Linked DNA regions of Homo sapiens: all the other regions are linked to region 3. The links come from fine-mapping of genetic effects on gene expression. A gene starts in region 3. Each other region holds a variant in brackets. All regions are shown on one strand. Distances are between the middles of the regions.

Region 1 (5,109 bases), 50 kb before region 3:
TTTGCCTATTCTGGACATTTGCATATTGCAGGTTGTATCAGTATTCATTTCTTTTTATTGCCAAATAATATTCCATTGTATGGATATACCACATTTTATTTATCCATTCATCACATGATGGATATTTGGATTGTTTCCACCTTTTGGATCTTTTGAATAATGCTCTTGTTAACATTTGCGTACAGGTTTTTGGGTGGACAAAATTTTCATTTCTCCTGAGTATGTAACTAGGGATGGAATTACTGGATTATATAACAACTCTATGTTTAACCTTCTGCTGAACTGCCAGAATGTTTTCCAAAGTGGCTGCACCATTGTATATTCCCACTAGCAGTGTATGAGGATTCCTATTACTACATCATTGTCAACACTTACTATTGCCTTTTATTTATTTATTTATTTTCATTTTGTTTTATATAATTTTTTTGAGACAGAGTCTCACTCTGTCACCCAGGCTGGAGTGCAGTGGCGCAGTCTTGGCTCACTGCAACCTCTGCCTCCCGGGTTCAAGCAATTATCATGCTTCAGCCTCCTGAGTAGCTGGGACTATAGGTGTGCATCACCACGCCCAGCTAATTTTTGTGTTTTTAGTAGAGAGGGGGTTTCATCATGTTGGCCAGGCTGATCTGGAACTCCTGACCTCAAGTGATCTGCCCACCTTGACCTCCCAAAGTGCTAAGATTACAGGTGTGAGCCACCACACCCAGACCAGTTGATTTTTTTATATGGTGTCAGGAAAGGGTACAGTTTCACTCTTCTGCATATGGCTAACTAGTTATCCCAGCACCATTTATTGAATAGGGAGTCCTTTCCTCATTGCTTGTTTCTGTTAACTTTGTCAAAGATCAGATGGTTGTAGGTGTGCAGAATTATTCCTGGGCTCTATATTCTGTTCCATTGGCCTATATGTCTGTTTTTATACAAGTATTATGCTGTTTTGGTTACTGTAGCTTTGTAATATAGTTTGAAGTCAGGTAATGTGATGCCTCTAGCTTTGTTATTTTTGCTTAGGATTGCCTTGGATATTTGGGCTCTTGGTTCCATATGAATTTTAAAATAGCCTTTTTAAATTCTGTGAAGAATACATTGGTAGTTTAATAGGAATAACATTGAATCTATAAATTGCTTTGGGCAGTATAACTGTTTTGACATTATTGATTCTTCCCATCCATGTACATGGAATGTTTTTCCATTTGTTTGTGTCATCTCTGATTTCTTAGAAGAGTGTTTTGTAATTCTCATTATAGAGATGTTTCACCTCCCTGATTAGCTGTATTCCTAGGCAGTTCATTCTTTTTGTGGCTATTGTGAATGGGATTGCATTCTTAATTTGGCTCTCAGCTTGGATGTTGTTGGTGTATAGCAATGCTACTGATTTTTGTACATTGATTTTGTATCCTGAAACTTTGGTGAAGTATCAGATTAAGAAGCTTTTGGGCAGAGACTATAGGGTTTTCTAGGTAAAGAATCATATCATCTTCAAACAGGGATAGTTTGACTTCCTCCATTCCTATTTGGATGCCCTTTATTTCTTTCTCTTGTTTGATTGCTGTGGCTAGCACTTCCAGTACTATGTTGAATAGAAGTGGTGAGAGAGGGTGTCCTTGTTTTGTTCCGATTTTCAAGGGGAATGTTTCCAGGTTTTGCCCATTCAATATGATGTTGGCTGTGGGTTTGTCATAGATGGCTCTCATTATTTTGAAGTATGTTCCTTCAATGTCTAGTTTGTTGAGGGCTTTTACTGATGGGAAGTTGAATTTTATCGAATCTGGGTGCTCCTGTATTGTAGGCAAATATATTTAGGATTGTTAGGTCTTATTGAACTGAACTTTACACCATCATGTATCGTCATTGTCCTTTTTGATCTTTGCTGGTTTAAAGTCTGTTTTGTCTGAAATTATGATAACAACACTTGGTTCTTTTCTGTTTTCCATTTGCTTGGTAGATTTTTCTCTGTCCTTTTGTGAGCCTATGGGTGTCATTGCATGTAAGATGGGGGTCTTGAAGATAGCATACTGATGGGTCTTTCTTCTTTATCCAAGTTGCCACTCTGTGCCTTTTTTAAAAAAAATTATTACACTTTAAGTTCTAGGGTACATGTGCACAATGTGCAGGTTTGTTACATAGGTATACATGTGCCATGTTAGTTTGCTGCACCTATCAACTCGACACTTACATTAGGTATTTCTCCTAATGCTATCCCTCTCCCAGGCCCCCACTCCCCAATAGGCCCTGGTGTGTGATGTTCCCCAGCCTGTGTCCATGTATTCTCATTGCTCAACTCCCACATATGAGTGAGAACATGTGGTGTTTGG[T/C]TTTCTGTCTTTGTGATAGTTTGCTGAGAATGATGGTTTCCAGCTTCATCCATGTACCTGCAAAGGACATGAACTCATCCTTTTTATGGCTGCATAGTATTCCATGGTGTATATGTGCCACATATTCTTAATCCAGTCTATCATTGATGGACATTTGGGTTGGTTCCAAGTCTTTGCTATTGTGAATAGTGCCGCAGCAAACATACGTGTGCATGTGTCTTTATCATAGAATGATTTATACTCCTTTGGGTATATAGCCAGTAATAGGATTGCTGGGTCAAATGGTATTTCTAGTTCTAGATCCTTGAGGAATTGCCACACTGTCTTCCACAATGGTTGAACTCATTTACACTCCTACCAACAGTGTAAAAGCCTTCCTATTCCTCCACATCCTCTCCAGCATCTATTGTTTCCTGACTTTTTAATGATCACCATTGTAACTGCTGTGAGATGGTATCTCATTGTGGTTTGATTTGCATTTCTTTAATGACCAGTGAAGATGAGCATTTTTTCATATGTTTGTTGGCTGCATAAATGTCCTCTTTTGAGAAGTGTCTGTTCATATCCTTTGCCCACTTTTTGATGGGGTTGTTTTTTCTTGTAAATTCGTCTAAGTTCTTTGTAGATCCTGGATATGAGCCCTTTGTCATATGGTAGATTGCAAAGATTTTCTCCAATTCTGTAGGCTGCCTGTTCATTCTGATGATAGTTTCCTTTGCTGTGCAGAAGCTCTTTAGTTTAATTAGATCCCATGTGTCAATTTTGGCTTTTGTTGCCATTGCTATTGGTATTTTAGTCATGAAGTCTTTGCCCATGTGTATGTCCTGAATGGTATTGCCTAGGTTTTCTTCTAGGGTTTTATGGTGTTAGGTCTTACATTTAAGTCTTCAATCCACCTTGAGTTAATTTTTGTATATGGTGTAAGGAAGGGATCCAGTTTTAGCTTTCTACATATGGCTAGCCAGATTTCCCAGCACCATTTATTAAATAGGGAATCCTTTCCCCATTTCTGGTTTTTGTCAGGTTTGTCAAAGATCAGATAGTTGTAGATGTGTGGTGTTATTTCTGAGGCCTCTGTTCTGTTCCATTGGTCTATATATCTGTTTTGGTACCAGTACCATGCTGTTTTGGTTCCTGTAGCCTTGTAGTATAGTTTGAAGTCAGGTAGTCTGATGCCTCCAGCTTTGTCCTTTTTGCTTAGGATTGTCTTGGCAATGCGGGCTCTTTTTTGGTTCCATATGAACTTTAGCTTTTCCCAATTCTGTGAAGAAAGTCAATGGTAGCTTGATGGCGACAGCATTCAATCTATAAATTACCTTGCGCAGTATGGCCATTTTCACAATATTGATTCTTCCTTTCCATGAGCATGGAATGTTCTTCCATTTGTTTGTGTCCTCTTTTATTTTGTTGAGCAGTGGTTTATAGTTCTCCTTGAAGAGGTCCTTCACATCCCTTGTAAGTTGTATTCCTAGGTATTTTATTCTCTTAGTGGCAATTGTGAGTGGGAATTCACTCATGATTTGGTGCTCTGTTTGTCTATTATTGGTGTATAGGAATGCTTGTGATTTTTGCACATTGACTTTGTATCCTGAGACTTCGCTGAAGTTGCTTATCAGCTTAAGGAGATTTTGGCTGAGATGATGGGGTTTTATAAATATATAATCATGTCATCTGCAAACAGAGACTATTTGACTTCCTCTTTTCCTAATTGAATGCCCTTTATTTCTTTCTCCTGTCTGATTGCCCTGGCCGGAAGTTCCAACACTATGTTGAATAGGAGTGGTGAGAGAGGGCATCCCTGTCTTGTGCCAGTTCGCAAAGGGAATGCTTCTAGTTTTTGCCCATTCAGTATGATATTGGCTGTGGGTTTGTCATAGATAGCTCTTATTATTTTGAGATATGTCCCATCAATACCTAATTTATTGAGACTTTTTAGCATGAAGGGCTGTTGAATTTTGTCGAAGGCCTTTTCTGCATCTATTGAGATAATCATGTGGTTTTTGTCGTTGGTTCTGTTTATGTGATGGATTACGTTTATTGATTTGCATATGTTGTACCAGTCTTGCATCCCATGGATGAAGCCAACTTGATTGTGGTGGATAAGCTTTCTGATGTGCTGCTGGATTCAGTTTGCCAGTACTTTATTGGGGATTTTCACATTGATGTTCATCAGGGATATTGGCCTAAAATTCTCTTTTTTTGTTGTGTCTCTACCAGGCTTTGATATCAGGATGATTCTAGCCTCATAAAATGTGTTAGGGACAATTCCCTCTTTTAATAGAGATTGAAATTGTTTCAGAAGGAATGGTACCAGCTCTTCTTCGTACCTCTGGTAGAATTTGGCTGTGAATCCATCTGGTCCTGGACTTTTTTTTGGTTGGTAGGCTAGTAATTATTGCCTCACTTTCAGAACTTGTTATTGGTCTATTCAGAGATTCAACTTCTTCTTGATTAGGCTTGGGAGGGTGTATGTGTCCAGGAATTTATCCATTTCTTCTAGATTTTCTAGTTTATTTGCATAGAGGTGTTTATACTATAATCTCTGATGGTAGTTTGTATTTCTGTGGGATCAGTGGTGATATCCCCTTTATTTTTTATTGTGTCTATTTGGTTCTTCTCTCTTTTCTTCTTTGTTAGTCTCGCTAGCAGTCTATTTTGTTGATCTTTTCAAAAAATCAACTCCTGGATTCATTGATTTTTTGAAGGTTTTTTTGTTTCTCTAACTCCGTCAGTTCTGCTGTGATCTTAGTTATTTCTTGCCTTCTGCTAGCTTTTGAATGTGTTTGCTCTTGCT
Region 2 (5,109 bases), 67 kb after region 3:
AGTGAAAGTTAAAAAAAAAAAGCCACATAGGTTTAAGTTTTATCAGCATCTCAGGGATCTCCTTTTTAAATCTTTTCTTGACAGTTTGTCCCTTTCCTGATTATCTAATCATGTACACTGCGATCGTAGCGATTGTAAGTCTTCCACAAGGCCAAGATGGCTGAGTCACCATTTTGAATTTATGTTCAAAGCAGCCATAAGGACACACACACACACACACACAGACACACACACACTCCTTTAGTCAAGATATATTGATTAAAACTCTTCTTATTTGTTGCATGAACTGTACAGTCTTCAGTTCCTTTGTGTCCAGACTATTTTAACTATAACTATATTTAAGAGTGTTAGTGTCTAATTTAGGCTGATGTGTAGTCAAGCAGCTATATTGAAATCATGCAGCTTCTTGTTTAGAAAATGTATATCATCAAAACTCTGATGACTCTAGTTTTCTTTTTTCCTATTTTTAATTCTATGGTTCAGGGCCACCTTCTCTATTTCTATTCTGTTTTACAATATTAACGGTTCCTCCAATGTAAACATTTGTTCATTTTTTGACAGAATTTGCATATTCTCCAATTGCACATTTTAGTATCTAACAGGAACTTTTCCCCAAACAGATTCAGTTCTTTCCTGTTTTGAATTAATGGCATGTTTGTGAGCTGAGATGTAATGATGTATGCATGACGCATGAAAGAGAGGTATACAGAGTCATTGTTAACAGCAAGGACTCTCAGAATCTGCAGCCTGAATTCAAATCCTGCCTCTGTCCCACCCAGTTTTACCTCATTGAGCAAGTTACTTTACCTGAGACTTTGTGTTCTGATATTTAAAGTCGGGTAGTTATGATAACTATATCATAGAGTTATCAAGCACTTAATACAGGATTTGGAACATAGTAAGCTCAAAATAAATGTTAGCTTAAAAAGTAAAAGCATAATGGAACTGTAAAGCTGATACATACAATCACGCATCACTTAATGATGAGAACACATTCTGAGAAATGCAGTTAGGTGATTTCATCATTGTTCAAACATCATAGAGTGTGCTTACACAAACCTAGATGGTATAGCTTACTACAGGCCTAGGCTATATGGTAGAGCCTATTGCTTCTAGGCTACAAGCTTGTACAGCATATTACTGAATACTGTAGGCAATTGTAACAGGATGGAATTTGTGTATCTAAATATAGAAAAGATAAAATAAAAATACTGTATTTAATCTTATGGAACTACCATCTTATATGTTGTCCATCATTGACTGAAATTTGTTATGTGGTGCAAGACTGTAAATGCACATATTAGATCTAATATTATCAGTACTGAGCAAAAAATTGTGGTTAGCTATTTCAAAATTCATTTCTTAATGAATTTTATTCCTTGACATCAATTGATTTACCATTCATTCCCACCCTTTATCATTGTGCACAGCACACTGTGCATACCAACATAACCCTGGTGGTTACATTGAATTATTGTCAGCTTCCATCCACTCCAGCATTGGGCCGTTACTCTTCCATTGAGACCATTACCATTACCATTTAAATAATAACATCTTGAACTCTTCCCTCCCTACCATGATGAGATACCCAGCATCTCTCTCATGAAAATGCCTCTGTGGTCCTCTCTTGCTTCTGTTTTTACCTCCCCTGAGTTGGTTGTACTCATATCTTATCCTCTGTTCCTGATCTCTTCTCTCCACTCAAGCCAGCCCCAAATGGTACAGTCCTTTTCCCTTCATTTCCTGCAAACACTATTCACATAAGACATTTGTATGTATTAGACTTTTTATTTTTTGAGGATTTGGAAGGATTTGCTGTATTATTGAAAAATGGGTTAGATTATCTAAAATTGGATATTTCACATTTTTCTTCATAAGAGTTTCTCTTCTCACTACAGGGAATTTCTCAACAGCTTACTTTATTCCTGAATCTCCTGATTTCCTGCTTTGGGGATGTCCCACTCCCTCCAAAGACTCCCTATTCGTTAATGTCCTGCTCACACAGGGCCCAGAGCTCAACCTTTCTCTAACTCTATTATGCAAAACAATTCTGTTTTCTCTATGTCTATTTTAGCGCATTTGTCCATGTCCTGAGGGCTTTCGTTTTGAACAAACATTTTCTTTCTAAGCAACTGCTGCCAGCTTTAAAATAATATTCTCTCTCTACCCTTAACTCAAAGATAAATAAGCTATAAATTTTGCTTTTGTAGCCACAGTTGATTTTCAACAGAGTGATCATTTTAAATTGTGAGTCAGTTGCTTCAGCCCCCTGCCATGGCTTCCAAACTCAGAGCAACAGCCAAGCTCTTTGCAATGTCTGCAGGACTTCAAGGACCTGCTTGGTCATCTCTCTGACTCTATATTTTCATACTCTCCTCCTCTCTCATTTTCCTTCAACAGCTCCAGCCTCTTTGTTATGCCTTGAACCCAAAGCCTATCAGCCACATATTCATCAAACATCTTTCTACCTCAGGGCCTTCGTACTTGTTATTCCTTCCCCATGGAAACCTCTTCACTCAGATATCAAATAATTTCAAACTTCACTGCCTTTGAGTTATATTCTGATGGACATTTATAAAATAGCCAGAATTTAAAAATCTCTCTTTCTTTGAGAAATCACAGCTTTCCATATTACACATTTACTTACATATTTGATTATTGTCTACATCCATCCACTAGAAGGTAAGCTCCGTGAGGCCAGGGACTTTGTCTCTTCTGTTTACTGCCATATCTTGGCAATATATCAGGCACATAGGAGTTGCTCAATACACTTTTGATGATTGAATCAATACACGCAGAAATAATGGTAGACATTAGGTGCTTGAGGGGCACAAAGAGGTGAGTTGTGTTTGGAGGGATCGGGGAAAACTTCATAGAGAAGGAAAAATAAACTAGATGAACAAGAAGCCAGGATAAGGAGAGCTTTCATGAGACAGAGGAAGCATGATGCATAAAGGCATGAAAGAATGAGGTGCTTTTAGGAATCAAAAGACTTTTAATATTGCCAAACTCTAAGCTCTCTGTGTGTACAAAAGGCAGCCTTGCTCCAAGTATTGGCCACAAACCTGGTGCACTGGTGCAGATTTGTGGATAAGGTAATGAAGCTTCAGGGCCTCTCAATTGCATAATCTGATGAGAGGCTCTATTGATGTGTTTAG[G/A]AGGTTATGTTTTTGAAAAATTTGCCACAGTAAGATATTTTAATCACGATTGGCTAAAAGAGCTGTCTCTTTCCACTCTGACTCACCTCTGTTACACTTCTCATGTGAGGTAGTGTTGGAATGGTCACAGGCAATTTTGGGAACGTGACCTGGGATTCTTTTAATTTGATTTTAGTGGAATCTTACGTGGTTCATAGTCACTTCCGTGCATAGTTAAATTTTCGCTGGTATCGCTGAATAACTTCCACAAAAGCTATCACTCATTGCATCAACTCACTGACATCAAGAAATGAAGATGTAGGGCCTGGAATCATACTGTGATAAGAATGTGTCCATGGTGTCAATACCAGAAGGAAGAGAGTGAGGAGGAACAAGTGAGAAATGTTCAGGGCCAGAAATTTGCCTGCAGGACATTCTTCAACATATTCTAGTTCATAGATAAAAGAAATCTGGTTCATAGATACAAGAAAGACAATTTTTTCTCAATTTGAAAACAATCTTAGCAATCTATATGTATCATGTACTAGAAGCCTAAAAGAACTCCTTAGCTTGCCCAAATTAAAATCTTGACAAGTGGCTGAAATCTAAATTCAGCCTTGGGCCTCTGTGGCTCTTACGTTTTCCCTTGCCCCACCATGTTTATCTCTGTCCATGCTGAGTCACCCCAAACCTCCAGACATGGATCAAATGATAAATCAGGTAGCTCGATGATACAACCTGGTCTGTGGAGACTTGCAGCCCAGCAGGATGGAATTTGGTCAATGAGAAGTGGGAGGAAGAAGGAAACCAAGCCTATAAATTCCCTCTCCTTTTTTCTTTCCTATAAGGTATGGCTTTTTCTTGCAACCATTCAGAAAGTCCTCCTTGCTGAACTAGCGCACTGCTGAGAGATGTGATGTGTTTCTTTGCAGTTTGTTTAAAATGCTGGCCAGCAGGGCCATGTAGCATGCGTTTCAAGTCTTTCCTTGCCCCGCTGCTTTTTTTTGGTTCATCTTCACCTTTCCTACCTTGTACCTTCTAACTTAAGTGTCAGCACTTCAATCCTTGCTCAGGCTCTTGCCCATGGCAATCCAACTGAGAAGTTACAAAGAATGAACTGTGGCAGTACCAGTAAGAAAGGGAAAGACATGAACGATGTAAGGCAAGTTAATTGAAAAGAATCCAGTGATCAAGTTAATATCGTAGGAAGAGAAGGTAGGATGAATTGACGATTCCTAGGTTTCTGGCTTGGGCTTTGAGTGAATCATGGTGCTGAACAGGTAATACAGTACAATGGGTTTTAAGATAAATAATAAATTTGGTTTCAGACTTGTCGAATTTTATTTGTCCTGGATAAAGAAGTAATAGTTGGAGAGGACTTAACTCTGGAATAGACAAAATAGACAATAAAATGAAAAGTGAAGTTGGTTAACCCTTACGGAAGGCAAATGTAGGCATAATTATAGGCCAAATATGTAAAAAATTAGGAAAGCAAAATTTTCACAGGAGGGAGTGGACAACTGTGACAAATGGCATAGAGATTTCATGAAATGGGAAGCTTACAAAGCAACAAGATGTCAGAAGTGATAATTAGGACTTAATAATAGGGATGTCACAAGTGGTCTTGTGAGAGGAGGTCCTTTGAAGTGGCCTGCAGGGAAGCCAGACAGATGGGATTCAGGAGTGAAAGACCACCTGCACTGCAAGAACCGTTCATTTGCTTTCTCAGTTGATGCTCCTGGGCTGCTGAGCATAAACCTGTGCAGAGGAGACCCTGATGATTGATATTGCAGATTCCTGTTGTCTAATAAAATGGTCCATCACTTTTGATCAGCAATCTATTTATCCATTTCTGATTAACTCCTGTTAAGTTTCCTCCTAAAAAGTATTATAAATTTTTGTCCTCAATCTCAGTAAGATACAAACTTACATGATGGCAGCAACACTCCATTGATACACAATTATGGTTACC
Region 3 (5,109 bases):
ACGCTAAGTGTTAAATGAAAATCACTTACAAACCTTCTACTTTTGTAATCAAATTGCAGGACAAATTTAATGTGCACAGTTTTGTCAGTGTGTTTAGTCCTTCAATTCTACTTATTTGATTAGATGACAGATCTAGATGTTGTAAATTCCAAATATGATCAATGGCTTCGATCTTGGAGATGTTATTGCAATGAAGATTGACGGCATGAAGAGTTGAATCTAAAGATAATTCTGATATGCTATAAAAGAAAATATATACTATAAAAATAGATTTTAAAAGCATGACCAAATAACTAAAATTAACCAAACAGCACGTAGATACTAAATATGTGCTCTATTCATTCTAGAATGAAATCTTTCCTATTTGTGGTACCTTTGAAATGTCTCACAAAACACGGTGCTTCTTACAACACAACCAAGTATTTTGGATTATTTATACAAACAAGAAACCGCTCAAGGCAGGCAAGTGACAGTGGGCATTTCTAACTCCTGTGTGCAGTCATCAGCATATATTGAAGGCAGTGCTGAATAGTAGTCAATAACTGTAAAGGCTTTGGAATGTTAATATCCCAGTTTGAATCTGCATTCTATCACGGTTTTGCTGTGTGATTTGAGCAAATGACAACCTGAGCCTCAGTTTTCTTACCTCAATTAATTCTCACAATAACTCTAAGCAGTGGGTATCTTAAGGATACCTAAATTTATGGAAATTAAATAGCTTGCCCAAATTCTTGCAGCTAACAGAGCATATGTAAATCCAGATCTCATGCTGGAGATTATAACTTTATTTTCTTCTTTGTGTGCAATAGCTATTTAATCCACAGTCTATTGCATTTTCAAAAACAAACCATGTTATTGCAATTCCTATTGAAAAAGTCCCTGTCCTCCCTTGTTGAAAGTTAATGGATCTCCCCTAAACAGAACTCATCTCTTCACTCCAATTACTATTTATAACTGAAGCTTCTCCTGAAGATAGTAGTTCCAGGAACACAAACTACAGCATACACAGTTTGGAGTTGCTAGATGGGAGATACACCCAGGAACACACAATGTCACGGGCATCTGCTGTAGGTTGAGTAGCAGCTATCTTACAGCTGTAGGAAACCTAACTCTGACAGCAGGGAAGCATTTGCAAATTTCAAACTAGCAACCTTTAAATGTGACTATCTGGGGCATTTCCCACTTATCCTGCTGTGTCATTTACTTGAGTTCTTATTTAGTGCCAGACCTTATGCTGTTAACACATGCTCTTAATGACAGTCATTTACTTTCTGACACATTTCAGTTTCTCGACATTAATAATGTGCAGATAATGTGAGATAGAAAAAGCATAGTGAAATTAGACGGAAAATGGGTTTGAATCCGAACTTAATTCTTCATGAAGTGTATAAAGATGAACAAATTGTCAATAGATTCTGAGTCTCATTCATCACTTGTAAATGAGAAAAATTACTACCTTGTAGAATTGCTGTGAGGATTACTGATAATGTATATAACATGCACACAACAGATAGCATTCAGTAAATGGCAGCTAGTATTAAATAGAAATGTAAAATGTCCCTTGAACAGCATCTTCTTGGGATCATCTGGCAAAGTTTAAATCAGAATCCAGAACAAGATGCTTAATTATCAGTAGCAGAGTTCGCGTAGAGGACACGCTACAAAGGAACAGCATGTGCAAAGGCACAGAGAAGTCTGCTATGGAATTGCCTGTAGCTCAGTACAGGTAAATAAAGTGTAAGTGGAGAAATGTTACGGGTCGAGACTAAAGAGCCTGAAATGCAGGTGGAGACCTGCTTTACAGTATTACAGAACCAAGTGCCTCATATGCTTTGCACAAGTCAGGGCTTCAAGAGAGAGGGAAACGATGAACTAAATATAGTAAGTTTAGTACTTTCAAAAAGTATATGAATATATGTATTGCAATGTTCTGTAACGGACAAATGATTTCGAATGCAGACAAGGAGAACTGAGGCAAAACTAACAGGCAGCAGCGACTGCCCGCTCATAGCTGCCAGAGATACTATCCTGCAGGTTTTTTTCAGAGGTAAGAACAGGAAAGACGAGAGAACACGAGAAAACCAGCAATTAAACGGCAAGCAAAGGAATAACCACCAGTAAGTAAGGAAAACCAGCAGAAGGAAAGAGTGGTCAGAAGCTGGTGGAGGACAAGGTCCTGGGGCAGTTTCTAGGCTAAGCAGAGTCGTGTGAAACGCTGGGCAGGAGACACGGGCGGGAAGGCATCCACGGCTCATTCAACCTGGCACTTCGGCAGGTAAGTTTTGGAGGAGCGGGGAGGCCGAAAGCCAGACTGCGTTCACTTATGGTCTTGGTAAAGCAGTGCCGCGCCTCCACTCTGGTGTCGCCGCCAGCCACTCGTGGCCCCGGCTCTGGGGAGTGCGCGGGTCGCTCCTGGCTGCGGAGCGCCCTTTACCTCTGCAAGCCTTTGTCCATGAAGCATACATCCCCGCAGCTGCTGTCGCCGTCTTCGTTTTCCACTTCCGCCTCTGCCGCCACCACCGCCGCCGCCGCCTCCATAGCACTGGCGACGGGGAGCGGGGTCTTAACCGGCACCCAGCGAGGGGTCCGTGAGCTTGGGACAAGCCTCCCGGAAGCGCGGAAGGGCGGCCCGAGGGGGCGGGGCGGGGCGAGGACCCACCCTCCAACCGACAGCCGGGAACTTTCCCGCCTTGACGGTGACGCAAAACTGGAATCCTCGTCCCAACTGTGGGCTTCTTTCGTTTTTACAGCATCTGCGGTGCGACTCTTGAACTTGCTGTAAAGTAAAACTGCTTCCCGGGCGTGTAGGAGCTGGAGAATGAATGGATTTGTCCTGTGTGCTTCTGTATATTTGCCTAGTAGCCGACTGACTTCTGAAGGCGGTTTTCACAGCGGTTTGGCTTTACGTGCCTTTACATAGCCTTACATACGTATAAATTGTTCCTCTGGCCATTGCACCTCCTGTTGATTCATTGAACAATTTGTGGGATGCCTTACTGTATGTCAGTCACTTCCCTGTATGAGGAAGAAAAAGATGAAGCCTATTCTTGTTCCTGGAAACATTCGCAGCCCCATAGAGGAAACAGAATTGCCATACAGTATGACGAATGCTAAGAATAACACAAGGGCATCGAAACCAACTCTAGAGTGATATGGGTAGTGGGTACGTTTTCTAAAAGAAGTGATTGATGACTGAATAGAGTCTTGCTGGGTTAGGGGGAGTTCTGGATGAATGGCATTACAGGTGGGAAAGCAATACCTGTGTGAGGTCAAATAACCCTCCTGGCTAGATTGCTTCCTAAGGCATAGTAATATTTTAAAACGGAGCAAATGGTGCAGTAGTCCATTTGAAGTGGACTATTTCCTTTTGAAATAACTCATATAGACAAAAATAAAAAAGATGTTTTAAAAAATGAGCAAAACCCACATGACATGTAGGACACCATAAAGTGACCAAATATTCAAAATTTTGGAGTCTCAGAAGGCAAAGAGAAAACAATAGAGTTGGAAAAATGGTTCAACAAAATACTATATGAAAACTTCCCAAGTCTAGCAAGAGATTTAGACACCCAGGCACAGGAGGCCAAAGGTTCCCAAACAGATACAATGCAAAAAGGTTTTCTTTTAAAAAAAATTTCATCTCACTTTTTATTTTAGATTCGGGGGTACATGTGCAGGTTTGTTACATAAGTATATTGCACGATGCTGAGGTTGTGGCTTCTAATGATCCTGTAACCCAAATAGTAAATATAGCGCTTGATAGGTAGTTATTCAACTCTTGCCTTCCCCCTTTTGGAGTCCCCAGTGTCTATTGTTCCCATCTTTGTGTTCATGTGTATCCAGTGTTTAGCTGCCACTTGGAAGTGAGAACATATGGTATTTGGTTTTCTGTTTCTGTGTTAATTCACTTAGGATAATGACCTTCAGCTGCATCCATATTGCTGCAAAGGACATGATTTTGTTCTTTTTTATGGCTGCATGTTGGTGTATATGTGCCACATTTTCTTTATCCAGTCTATCATTGATGGGCATCAGGGCTCATTCCATGCCTTTGCTACTGTGCTGCAATAAACATATGAATGCGGGTGTCTTTTTGGTAAAACAATTTATTTTTCTTTGGCTAGATACCTGGTCATGGGATTCCTGGATTGAACGGTAATTCTATTTTTAGTTCTTTGTGAAATCTCCAAACTGCTTTCCACAGTGGCTGCAATTTGCATTCCCACTGATGGTGTGTAAGCATTACTTTTTCTCTGCAACCTCACTAACATCTCATATTTTCTGACTTTTTAATAAAACCCACTCTGACTGCTGTGAGATGATATCTTATTATAGTTTTGATTTACATCTCTCTGATTATTAGTGATGTTGAGCATTTAAAAATATGTTTCTTGGCTGCTTGCATGTCTTCTTTCGCAAAAAAGAAAAGAAAAGAAAAAGTCTCCTTTATGGCCCATTGTAGTCAAACTGATAAAAGTCAAAGACAAAGAATTCTAAAAACAGCAAGAGAAAAACATCTAGTCATTTATAAGGGAACCCTCAACAAACTAACAGTGGATTTCTCACCAAAAACTTTACAAGCCGGCAGAGAATGGTATGATAAATTCAAAGTGCTGAAAGAAAAAACAGCCAGCCAAGTACTCAACAAAGTTATCCTTCATAAACCAAGGAAAAATAAAGTCTTTCCAAGATAAGCAAAAGCAAAAGAATTCATCACCAGTCGACTGGACCTATAAAAATGCTCATGAGAGTCTTACATATGGAAACAAAAGGACAATATTTACCAGCATGAAAACACACAAAAATATAAAGTCCACTGGTAGATCAAACACACAAGAAAGAGAAAGGACTCAAATGTTACCATTACAGAAAACCACCAAACCACAATCATAAACAATGATAGAGAAGGAAAGGAACAAGGAATACACAAAAATAACCAGAAATGGATTAATAAAATGACAGGAATAAGCCCTCACGTATCAATCATGACCTTATGCAAATGGAATAAATTTTCCACCTGGAAGATATAGCTTGAATTAATGGATTAAAAAATGACCCAACAATAGTCTGCTTAGAAGAAACTCATCACACTTGTAAAGACACATATGG
Region 4 (5,109 bases), 140 kb before region 3:
TTACTTGGCATTTCCTCCGAAAAGTTGAAAATACCATGTATTTATTTGTCTTTATGCATTTTTTACAATGCTTTGATGAAAATGTACTACTTAGGCCAGTGTGGTGGCTCCCAGCACTTTGGGAGACCGAGGCGGGCAGATCCCTTGAGCCCAGTAGTTCAAGATCAGCCTGGGCAATATGGCAAAACCTTTTCTCTATGAAAAATACAAAAATTAGCTGGGCATGGGAGCACATGCCTGTGGTCCCAGCTACTCAGGAGGCTGAGGCAGGAGGATTGCTTGAGCCCAGGAGGTCAAGGCTGCAGTGAGCCATGATTGCACCACTGCACTCCAGCCTAGGCAATGGAGCGAGACCTTGTCTCAAAAAAATAAATAAATAAATAAATAAATAAGAAAAAAAGGCTGGGCGCAGTGGCTCACGCCTGTAATCCCAGCACTTTGGGAGGCCGAGGCGGGCGGATCACCTGAGGTCGGGAGTTCGAAACCAGCCTGATTAACATGGAGAAACCCTGTCTCTACTAAAAATACAAAATTAGCCAGGCATGGTGGCACATGCCTGTAATCCCAGCTACTTGGGAGGCGGAGGCAGGAGAATCGCTTGAACCCGGAAGGCAGAGGTTGCGGTGAGCCGAGACTGTGCCATTGCACTCCAGCCTGGGCAACAAGAGTGAAACTCTGTCTCAAAAAAAAAAAGAAAAGAAAAAAAAACTTACTACTTTTATGAATTTGACAAATATGAAGAAGAAATGTGGTTGGGCTTATAATTTTTGCTAACAATAAGGCTTTACATAAATACAAGATATTACTACTAATCTAAATCTGGGCTCAATTAATAAGTAAAAACTTTCTTTCAATTAAGGATTTTTAAAAATTAACTATATTTTTTCATTAATAGAGCAAATACAGCATCATCCTGATCTTAGATTAAAAATAAAAACAATCTGTCAGAGGCCCTAAAAAGTGTTTCCAAATATGATTCTCTCTAATATTTTATCTCATCTTACATTTAAACTTGATACCTTGGGCAGAATCTCTGCTTGGGCAGTAGATAGTCTGAAGAAGGATTAAACATTCACTTCAAGAAAATGTTTTTTCATCACTTATTTAATAAATTAACAAATAATCTATAAGTCCATTATTTATTCATGGTGTGAAAGACACTATCCCAAGAACTAATCATTAAACGAAATGATTACGTGTTCTAGAAAAAAGTACTAATAGGGAATATACAGTAAAAAAGTTTCATATATTTATTTTTTTAAAAAAATTAAACTTCTACTTTCCCTCCCTTCAATGTCCATTGTTAGGAGAATGGTACATAAATTACGATACAAGCATAGCTAATACAATTCAACTTTTAAAATTATTTTACTTTTATTTTTATCTTTTGAGACAGGATCTTGCTCTGTCACCCAGGCTGAGTACAGTGGCACTATCATGGCTCATTGCAGCCTTGACCTCCTGAAGTCAAGCAATCCTCCTGCCTCAGCCTCCAGAGTAGCTGGGAGTAAAGGCACACCCCACCATGCCTGATTAATTTTTTATTTTTTGTAGAGATAAGTTCTCACTATGTTGCCCAAGCTGGTCTTGAACTCCTAGACATAAGCAATCCTCCCACCTCAGCCTCCCAAAGTGCTGGGATTATACATGTGAGCCACCACACCCGGCTGCAGTTTAGCTTTTTAAACAAGATATATTTTAATCTGGAAAGATGTCTATAAAATATTTTTAAACAAGAAAAAAATTCAGAGTTATATAGCATTATTCCAAATGTATTTTTAATAAGAAAATGCAAAACAAGGATGATACACATGTATGTATACATAACTAAGCACCGAAATATTATGGAAGAAATAACATTAGTTACTTCAGGAGAGACTGTGGGAAGAAAGAGACATTAATATTTGTTATATGTTTCCATATTGTTTCATTTACTATGAGTGGATATTACTTTGGCAATTAAAATAAGAGAATAAGTTTTTTTTAAACTAAACTTTTTCTATTAAAGCAGGTACTTAAATGGCATTATAGGTTTGCAAATAATGCTAAAATAATTACGGCTAAAACTTTGCAGAAACAAATCATGAAATATCTATAAAAACTATTAAACTTTAATATTTTTATAATGGTAAATGCTAAGTGAAGTTATAATAACAAGCTAAGGTCAATTTTAAATTATCATGCAACATATCCTTTTCCAAATACTCTTTATTATTTTAAGGTAAGATTATCTGAAGGTTCAAATATATAACAAGATATCTTAATTCACACGAAGAAAAATATGCTTCAATTTGACAAATTCCAGGTCTAGCAAAAACAAAACATGAAAGATTAGAGAGTGTATTCTGGGTGCGGTGGCTCACGCCTGTAATCCCAGCACTTTGGGAGGCCGAGGCAGGCGGATCACGAGGTCAGGAGATCAAGACCATCCTGGCCAACATGGTGAAACCCTGTCTCTACTAAAAATACAAAAAAAGTAGCTGGGTATAGTGGCGTGCGCCTGTAATCCCAGTTACTCGGGAGGCTGAGGCAGGAGAATCTCTTGAACTTAGGAGGCGGAGGTTGCAATAAGCCAAGATCGCGCCA[C/T]TACACTTCAGCCTGGCGACAGAGCGAGACTCTGTCTCAAAAAAAAAAAAAAAAAAAGAGTATAGTCTAATCATTCAAACCCTTCATCCACCACCACACACACAAAAAAAGAAAAGCCAACCTGATTTGTTCTCTGTGTCATCAAAGTCAACATTGAAGGAATGGCCGCTGTTGCTGATGATTTTAGCTGAGCTTGGGTCATACTTGATACTAAGTGGTCGGAGGGAAGAGTCATATTTCACTTCTTTGGTTTTAATCTCAATTGGAGATTGCTGATCACCATCAGCAATAGGGAAAAATTCCTTCCAGTGAATAGGACCTTAAATATATAGGACCAAAAGAAAAGGATTAAATAAGTTCTTTCTTTCAACAAACATACATTGAGTATAACACACTGTGCTTGAAATTGAAGAAAACGCAAAGATTAATAAAATGAGATTCTCGTCCTCAGGACCTTGGCATCTAATTGTTTTTTTTTACAAGATTAGTTGTTTTTATTATAGATGTGGGAAACTCTTGGTGTGCCTTAAGTCATGTTCAGAATTAAAGTAACCCTTGTAGACAAGAGTCTGTAAATTTTATAAAATACTCTCCAAAGGTAACCTTCTACCAAACTAAAAACAATAATACAACTCATCATTGAAAACAATGACATTCAGTCTCAGCTCCAAAAATGAGCTATTGCTCCAGAGTTCAAGTTTGCAGATTGGAAGAGTCAAAAAAGCTGAGAAAGCCATGAAGCAAAGAAAGGGTGTCATTCTTAAAGATGCTGTGCTTACTTCTTTATTCTTCCTTCTATCACTCAATGCTATCGTCTAGTGTCACTCAGGCCTCCACTCAATTACCTGTGATGTGCAACAGGCATACCAAGGAAACACACAAATTTTTCACCTAGGATAATCCAAATAAAATGGCTGCACCACGTCAGGAAACGTAATATTGTTGATTATCTGCAGTAGAGTCAGATTGTAATTTATTTCTCTCTTTCTTCATTTCAGAAGGTTCTTCTATGGTTATTTTGCCAATGTTACATTTGAATTTCAACACAAGAGAAAGGTATCATCCTGGTCCTCTACTCAAAAACGTCAAAATCGTATCAAGTTCACAAATCAGACATGTTAGGGAAATTGAAACGAGCCAATCAGCTAACAGTTCCCTTTTCAATCCTCTTCACTTCTTTGGAAGACTCTATAAAGTCTTGCCTCTCAAAATCAGCAGCAAAGCTGTAGTTTCACGTAAGTTCCATGTCATTCTACAGATGTGAGTCACTTTATAGGTTATAGGTTCTTATTCTCTCTACTATTCCTGAAATTTATACAGCTATCACCACCTACACTGGGCTACTGACTAAGGTTTACCCACCTACTTTGCTAACCAATCTTTCACTAAAAATCAAGTACTAATTAAAACATCATAGCATGACAATTAATTAAACCTGTTACTAACGACAACCAAAAACATTTTAAAATGATAAAATTTAGAGTAATATTTAAAGAAATGCAATATATCACAATCATCAACAAACTTTAAAGCATAAAATTCTAAATCTTTTTTTTTTTTTTTTGAGACAGGGTCTTGCTCTGTTACCCAGGCTGGAATGCAGAGGTGTAATCTCAGCTCACTGCAGCCTCAACTTCCCAAACTCAAACAATCCTTCCACCTCAGCCTCCCAAGTAGCTAAGAGTACAGGTGTGCACCACCACACCCAGCTACTTTTATAAAAAACTTTTTTTTGTTGAAAGTCTCACTACAGGCTGGTCTCAAACTCATGGGCTCAAGTGATCCGCATGTCTCAGCTTCCTGAAGTGTTGGGATTACAGGCATGAGCCACCACGCCTGGCCCAAACTCTAAATCTGATACTGCTTACTATGCCTCATTTTTGCAAAAGAGAACTCACACATACATACATTCTTTCATATATGCTTCAGGCACAAAAAGTCATAGCATAAATATATAACTATACACTCAGCTTAAAAGATGTCATCTGACAAACTGGACTTCAAAGCCACTTGAGCATCAGAAGTCCTTGCTTAGAATGTATTACAGAAAAAGCCTTTTTTATTCAATACTTTCACCATCTTTCTGAGTACTTTTTCTATATATAACCTAGACTTTTTTCCCCCTTAATTCAGAAAAAGCCTTCTATTTCACTGCCACCAAGTAAGAGTTAACCTAACGAAAATTCAATTTCAAATGCGCAATGCATGTGTTACAATATGCAGGTGACATTCTTCCAATCAATAGAGTTGCTTTCTTCTCCTAATTGCTTTGCTCTCCTATTTCCAGTCATTTATAAACAGAACTATTTTAAAAAGAAGTCAAACCAAAATAAAATAAAAGTAATAATTGTTTGTATCACATTCCCAATATTATCTACTAACTACCATAGTCAGTTCAGTACCCTGCCTCTTAAAGAGGTCCCCTTTTTCAATTTTTCCAAAAAAAATTTCCTCCTCTCCTCCTTCTCCTTGTCCCCCCCATGACCCTGCAGGCTAGTCTGGAACTCCTGGCCTCAGGCAATC
Region 5 (5,109 bases), 93 kb before region 3:
GACTTATTTAGTAATATATTCAAGACAGAAGTCTTTACACTCTTAAAATCAAGCACTAAAATCCTTAAAAATTTTAAACACCATACTTCTTGCTTAGAAAATTTATTGACAAGAACAACCAAATTACAAAAATTCTCAATCTTCCCTACAGTGTTTTTTTGTCATCTGGAAGGCCAGACTGGTTGGTGACTGGGTACCAAAAGAGTGTGCTCAGCAGTCACACCTAGCAGTCTCAGGATGTGACTGAGGTGCTGGTAAAATAAATTACAACATTTTAATGTTTTGGTGGAATTTTGGCGAAAACAAAACAAGACAAAAACTATGGTCAAAGGGGACACATTAGAAGAACAGAAATTGTTACATTCAAACGTATAACCAGGCCACAATTAATGACAACATGCGTTTCAATTAATTACTATTTACAAAGTACAAATTCCTATGAAAGTAGTTCTTGCTCTCAAGGACAGGTAAAGAGTTAGGAAGAGATTAATACAAGACAGTATGCAATGTGTGCCAAATGAGTAATAGCTTGAGGGAGAAAGTAAGATTTGAATTTTAAGAGCGAAAACCCAATATCCAAGAGAGCAAGGGAACACCCAACACAGGAGTGACACAGAGGCCCAGAAAGGTGTGTTCAGGGAAAGCTGAGGGGCCTGACTGAAATAGAGGATTTGGGAGATAGAAACATTGGGAAGGTCAAATTTTACAGAGCACTGAGAAGAAAAAAGGTTTCAGAAGAGGGTGCTGGTTTGTAACTTACTTCCACTGGATACTGTTTTTTGACTTTTTTTCAATCAAGTCAATTCCCTCTAAGACATTGGTGATATCATAAATTCTCCTTTTTTGCCTCACAGCCAAAGTATCAGCAGCCTGTTCAGGAAAGACAACGAGAACAGTGAAATAAAGGGCAAGTCATATTTTAAAGCCAAAAAGGGTTGATTATTAAATCCACAACAAGTCCAATCTCAAATTTGACCCACTCAGTTGCTTGGGGACAATAGCTGAGCATGTTCAAAGCATCTCCCAAACACTGCAAATACCAAAGAAATTATTCCATTTAAAAGCTAGCAGATGTTGGAACAGAAAAAGAAATTAAGGTCATGACACAAAGCCTGCAAAAATAAAAGAACACAATAAGAATACTTTGTGTCACCTTATGGACTAATCCTGAGGAGGAGCTACTAATTGCCTATCCATGTCACCTCCTATCTTATTTCTCTGTTCATAAACAGTCTCATCTAAAGATGCATTACTTATTTTTTAAAATTTTAAAGAATTACATCTCAGCAATTTATTTTGGTAATTAAGACACTTGGAAATTCTGAACTATATGCACACTTATAATACCTTGAAATAAATATCTACATTTTTAAATTAATAACGAAAACAGAGGAATGAATCATGCCATCCTAACACAAAGCATAAAATCAGCAAGAAATCAGAATCAATAGCTCAAGATTGCACTAGCAACTATTATACAAAAACTTGGTAGCTGCATTCACATTAGATAAGATCAACAAAACAATATATGCTATCATGTTATGAATTCAACAAACAATTCCTCTGATTAGTTCCAATTCACATTTTTGATGTGTGTTCCCAAAAGAACAAAGAGAACCTCAAAGAAGTTTTCAGAGTGGATTAGACAATAGCCTATTTTGAATGTGGAGCCACATTTTAAGATCCATGGTAGTTACAAATATTTGTGTCTCTACTGACAATTTTCAGCACATTATCTAAAATATCTAAATGAACAGGATTTAGCTTCACATAATTGCTAACAGCTCTCCCAGCTTCGCATAATTGCTAACAGCTCTCCCAGAGAGCATCACTACTTTCTTGATTCTGTGAAAACCTAGCTCAGCACAGTGTTTGCAATCTGGACCTGCCTTCCCCCCAGAGAAGGTGCCACTGACAGCTATATTCACTGTACAGGCATTTGGGATCTTAAGAGAAATGTCAGTTCTCTCAGACACATTTTTTTGTATGTGCCACCAAAACCCCCAGGTTACTGCTGTCCCATCATTCAGGTCTTCCTCAAGAAGGGGATTCATGCCTCAGTGGACCAGGAGAATAAGCAGGATGTGGCAGAAGAAGGAAAAGCAGGAGAGTGGGGCTCTTTGTTCCCCAACTCTAACTTGGCACTGTCCCTTCTAGAGAACCAGAAAATTAACAGCAGGACTAGCCATGGTTTGTTTCATTGATACCTTCTTCCCTTGTACTTAGCAATTCCCTTCTTGTTTTATCGACCTTCACAGAATTTTTACTCTTGACTTCGAGGCTGTTTTTATGAAGAGCAATACACGACTGCAAAGTTAACGGTACAAATCTGAAGCTGAGGTTTCATTTCTCACTTTCCTCTCTCTAGAGAAGTAACTCAGAGAACTCCAAGCCATGGCTCTGTGTTACTGGTATCTATGTACTCACACAGAAAAGCATTCACAGCCATAGCAACAGCACTCTGGTTTTGGTATCAGAACATGTTTGTATGAACCAGACCACAAGATCTAGCTTAGGTCATTAGGCAAAGTGCCATGAGATTTAATTTTTAGCTCAAAGTTTTAAAAAGGTGTCTTGTTTATCATTTATATTTATTACTGCTTAACAATCACAACATTTAACCCCTAGTTTCTAAAACTAAACATTATTTCTCAAATACTTTACTATTTAAGTATGTAAACATATAAATGACTAACATGTACAGATCATATGTAAAAGAATCTCCAGGAGGGTTTTATTTTAGAAAGTCCCATCATTCTTTTTTTTTTTTGAGACAGAGTCTCCCTCTCTTGCCGAAGCTGGAGTGCAGTGGTGTGATCTTGGCTCACTGCAACCTCCA[C/T]CACCTGGGTTCAACTGATTCTCCTGCCTCAGCCTCCCAAGTAGCTGGGACTACAGGTGTGTACCACCACGACTGGCTAATTTTTGTATTTTTAGTAGAGACGAGGTTTCACCATGTTGGCCAGGCTGGTCTTGAGCTCCTGACCCCAGATGATCCACCCACCTCGACCTCCCAAAGTGCTGAGATTACAAGTGTGAGCCATGGCACCCAGCCAGTCCCATCATTCTTAAGAAGTTCTGAAGCTAAACACACTGAGATCCAGTCCCAGGGCTGCCACTTCCTATCTTCAGCTGGCCTCATCGTAAGCTCACTAAGCCTCATTTCCTTTTTCATAAAATGGTATAACATATACTGAAAGGAGTATTGTGGGAATTAAACTGGATAATCTTACCGCAATGTCTACTGTATAGTGATTACTTAAATGTTGGCTAGTCAGCCTCATCATCAAATACAGGTTGAAACGGATCGTGGGTAAGACTGTGTTTAAGATTGGTTAAAGTTTGTGTGTATACAGATTTACCTTGTTTTATATAGTGTTTGAAAAAGTTGTGTGTGAATTCTTTAAAAACTAATTTGGGGCTTTAATATCTAACAGAATAATACCATGAATCTCCACCACCACCACCACCACCACTATCACCACTACCTTCCTCCATTCATTTAACACCAAAATGTTCCAGGCTTGGTTCTGGGTCTTAAAGATATAGATGTGACAGAACAAAGTCCCTGCCCTCAAAGAAGAGAGGGAAGTTAATAATATACAAATAATTATGTTTGGAGAGAATGCAGGCAAGAGGAAGGTGCTATATCAAATAGGATTTTCAGGGAAAGAGCTCTCTGACAAGGTGACATCTGAACATTTGAATGGAGTAGGAGACCCCTGTGAATGTTTGGTGGTAGAGCATTCTGGGCAGAGGAAGCAGCAAGCACGAAGGTTCTGAAGTGTGAGGGGTGCTTAGCTTCTTCAAGGAGAGGCAGGCAGGCCAGTGTGGCAGAATAATGAGAGGGAAAATGGAAAAAGGAGATAAAGACAGGAAAGGAGACCAACAAGATGGCGATGGCAATAATCCATGCAGGAGATGGTAGTGGCTTGGATGGAGGGGTAGCTATGAAGATGGTGAAAAATGTTAACATTCTGGATATATTTTGAAGGTATGGCAAGCAGCAGGTCCCTAGAGAGGAATCAGAAATGACTTCAGTTTTTGATAAGAGCAATTACAAATAAGGTATACTACAGAAGGAACCAGTTTGGAGCACTGGAAATAAAGAAACTGGCCTTGAACCTTCTGACATCCACAGGGAGAAAGCAAGACCACTGGACACGAGAGTGTGTGCTTAGGGGAGAGATCCAAGCTAGAGATATAAATTCAGTAGTCTTCAGCGAATAGACAGTTTATACCACAAGATGGAATCCACTAGTTTGACATAGGAGGTGAGCATATAAGGGAAGGTTAAGAACCAACTCTGGGGAAGTTTAAGGTCCAGGAAATGAGGGAGCAACCTGCCACTGAAGTCAGAAGAAAATCAGAAAGTGTGGGGTCTTGGAATCCAAGGGAAGAGAGTGTAAGAAAGTGTGACCATATCAAGTATTGCTGTCAGAGCAAGTTAGTGAGAACTGATCAGTGATTTGCCTTTGGAAAGATCATGGGTGACTTTGATCAGAGCTGTTTTGGCAGAGAGGTGGGGCTGAAAGTCTTAATGGAGAAATTTCAAGAAAGAATGGAAAGAAAGCTAGAATAGACAACTCTTGAAGAGTTCTGCTGCAAAGAGGTAAGAAGAAATGGGGCAATATTTTTAGGGAACTGTGGGGTCTCCAGGAAGTTTTTTTTTTTCCTTTTAAAGATGGGAGCTATTTCAACATGTGAGTATGCTGATAGGAATGATCTGGTAAAGAAAGAGGAATCATTAACAATGCAGAAGAGAGAAGGGATGACTGCTAGAGGTGGCAATAAGTAGGGAAGGCAGGATGTGAATTCAATAAGTGAGGACTGTCCTTAGATAATAACAGGGCATATTAATAACTGAAGTCCAGCAGAGTACCTGGGTACAGATATAGGTACATTAGTAGACCAGGTAGGGAGAAAGGTTAGACATTTCCTTCTGGTTGATTTTTATTCTCTCATCAGCACTGGGATCGGGGAGAAAGGAAAGGAGCTATTAATGGTTGAGAGGAGAGAAGAAAGTACAAAATATTCATATAAAAAAGCAAGACAATAGGTAGCATGGAAGGAACGCTGGACAGCACTACTGGCCCCTTTGTAGTTGGTGAT

Which allele goes with the higher level. Positions count from the first base shown, and alleles are read on the strand shown. Sizes are in standard deviations (SD) of each study's normalised expression. Not every link is listed here.
As copies of T replace C in region 5, the expression in prefrontal cortex of the gene that starts at base 2,596 in region 3 goes up (small effect, 0.39 SD a copy in GTEx).

The links. PIP is the estimated chance that this variant, and not a neighbour inherited with it, causes the effect. A credible set is the group of variants that fine-mapping cannot tell apart.
Region 1: its variant is the best candidate, but not a certain one, in a credible set for the expression of LRRCC1 in blood mononuclear cells (TOPMed, PIP 0.67).
Region 2: its variant is the best candidate, but not a certain one, in a credible set for the expression of LRRCC1 in whole blood (INTERVAL, PIP 0.55).
Region 4: its variant is the best candidate, but not a certain one, in a credible set for the expression of LRRCC1 in left ventricle (GTEx, PIP 0.70).
Region 5: its variant is the best candidate, but not a certain one, in a credible set for the expression of LRRCC1 in prefrontal cortex (GTEx, PIP 0.65).

What each region holds. Positions count from the first base shown.
Region 1 is chr8:85,154,377-85,159,485 of GRCh38, reverse strand. No RefSeq gene overlaps it. Among named protein-coding and RNA genes, the nearest start is that of E2F5-DT, 20 kb to the left of the region's middle. The variant T/C (reference allele first, on the strand shown) is at 2,316.
Region 2 is chr8:85,037,344-85,042,452 of GRCh38, reverse strand. No RefSeq gene overlaps it. Among named protein-coding and RNA genes, the nearest start is that of LRRCC1, 67 kb to the left of the region's middle. The variant G/A (reference allele first, on the strand shown) is at 3,159.
Region 3 is chr8:85,104,725-85,109,833 of GRCh38, reverse strand. It overlaps LRRCC1 (leucine rich repeat and coiled-coil centrosomal protein 1), which reads right to left and starts at 2,596. Exons shown (of 19, transcript NM_033402.5): 1 at 2,435-2,596; 2 at 34-239. The coding sequence starts at 2,538. LOC105375933 (a long non-coding RNA gene) reads left to right here and starts at 1,972. Exons shown (of 3, transcript XR_929117.3): 1 at 1,972-2,275. RefSeq lists an enhancer at 2,425-2,484.
Region 4 is chr8:85,248,536-85,253,644 of GRCh38, reverse strand. CA13 (carbonic anhydrase 13) reads right to left here. Exons shown (of 7, transcript NM_198584.3): 2 at 2,708-2,905. Among named protein-coding and RNA genes, the nearest start is that of CA13, 5.6 kb to the right of the region's middle. The variant C/T (reference allele first, on the strand shown) is at 2,587.
Region 5 is chr8:85,197,908-85,203,016 of GRCh38, reverse strand. E2F5 (E2F transcription factor 5) reads right to left here. Exons shown (of 8, transcript NM_001951.4): 2 at 761-870. Among named protein-coding and RNA genes, the nearest start is that of RBIS, 20 kb to the left of the region's middle. RefSeq lists a silencer at 2,358-2,417. The variant C/T (reference allele first, on the strand shown) is at 2,840.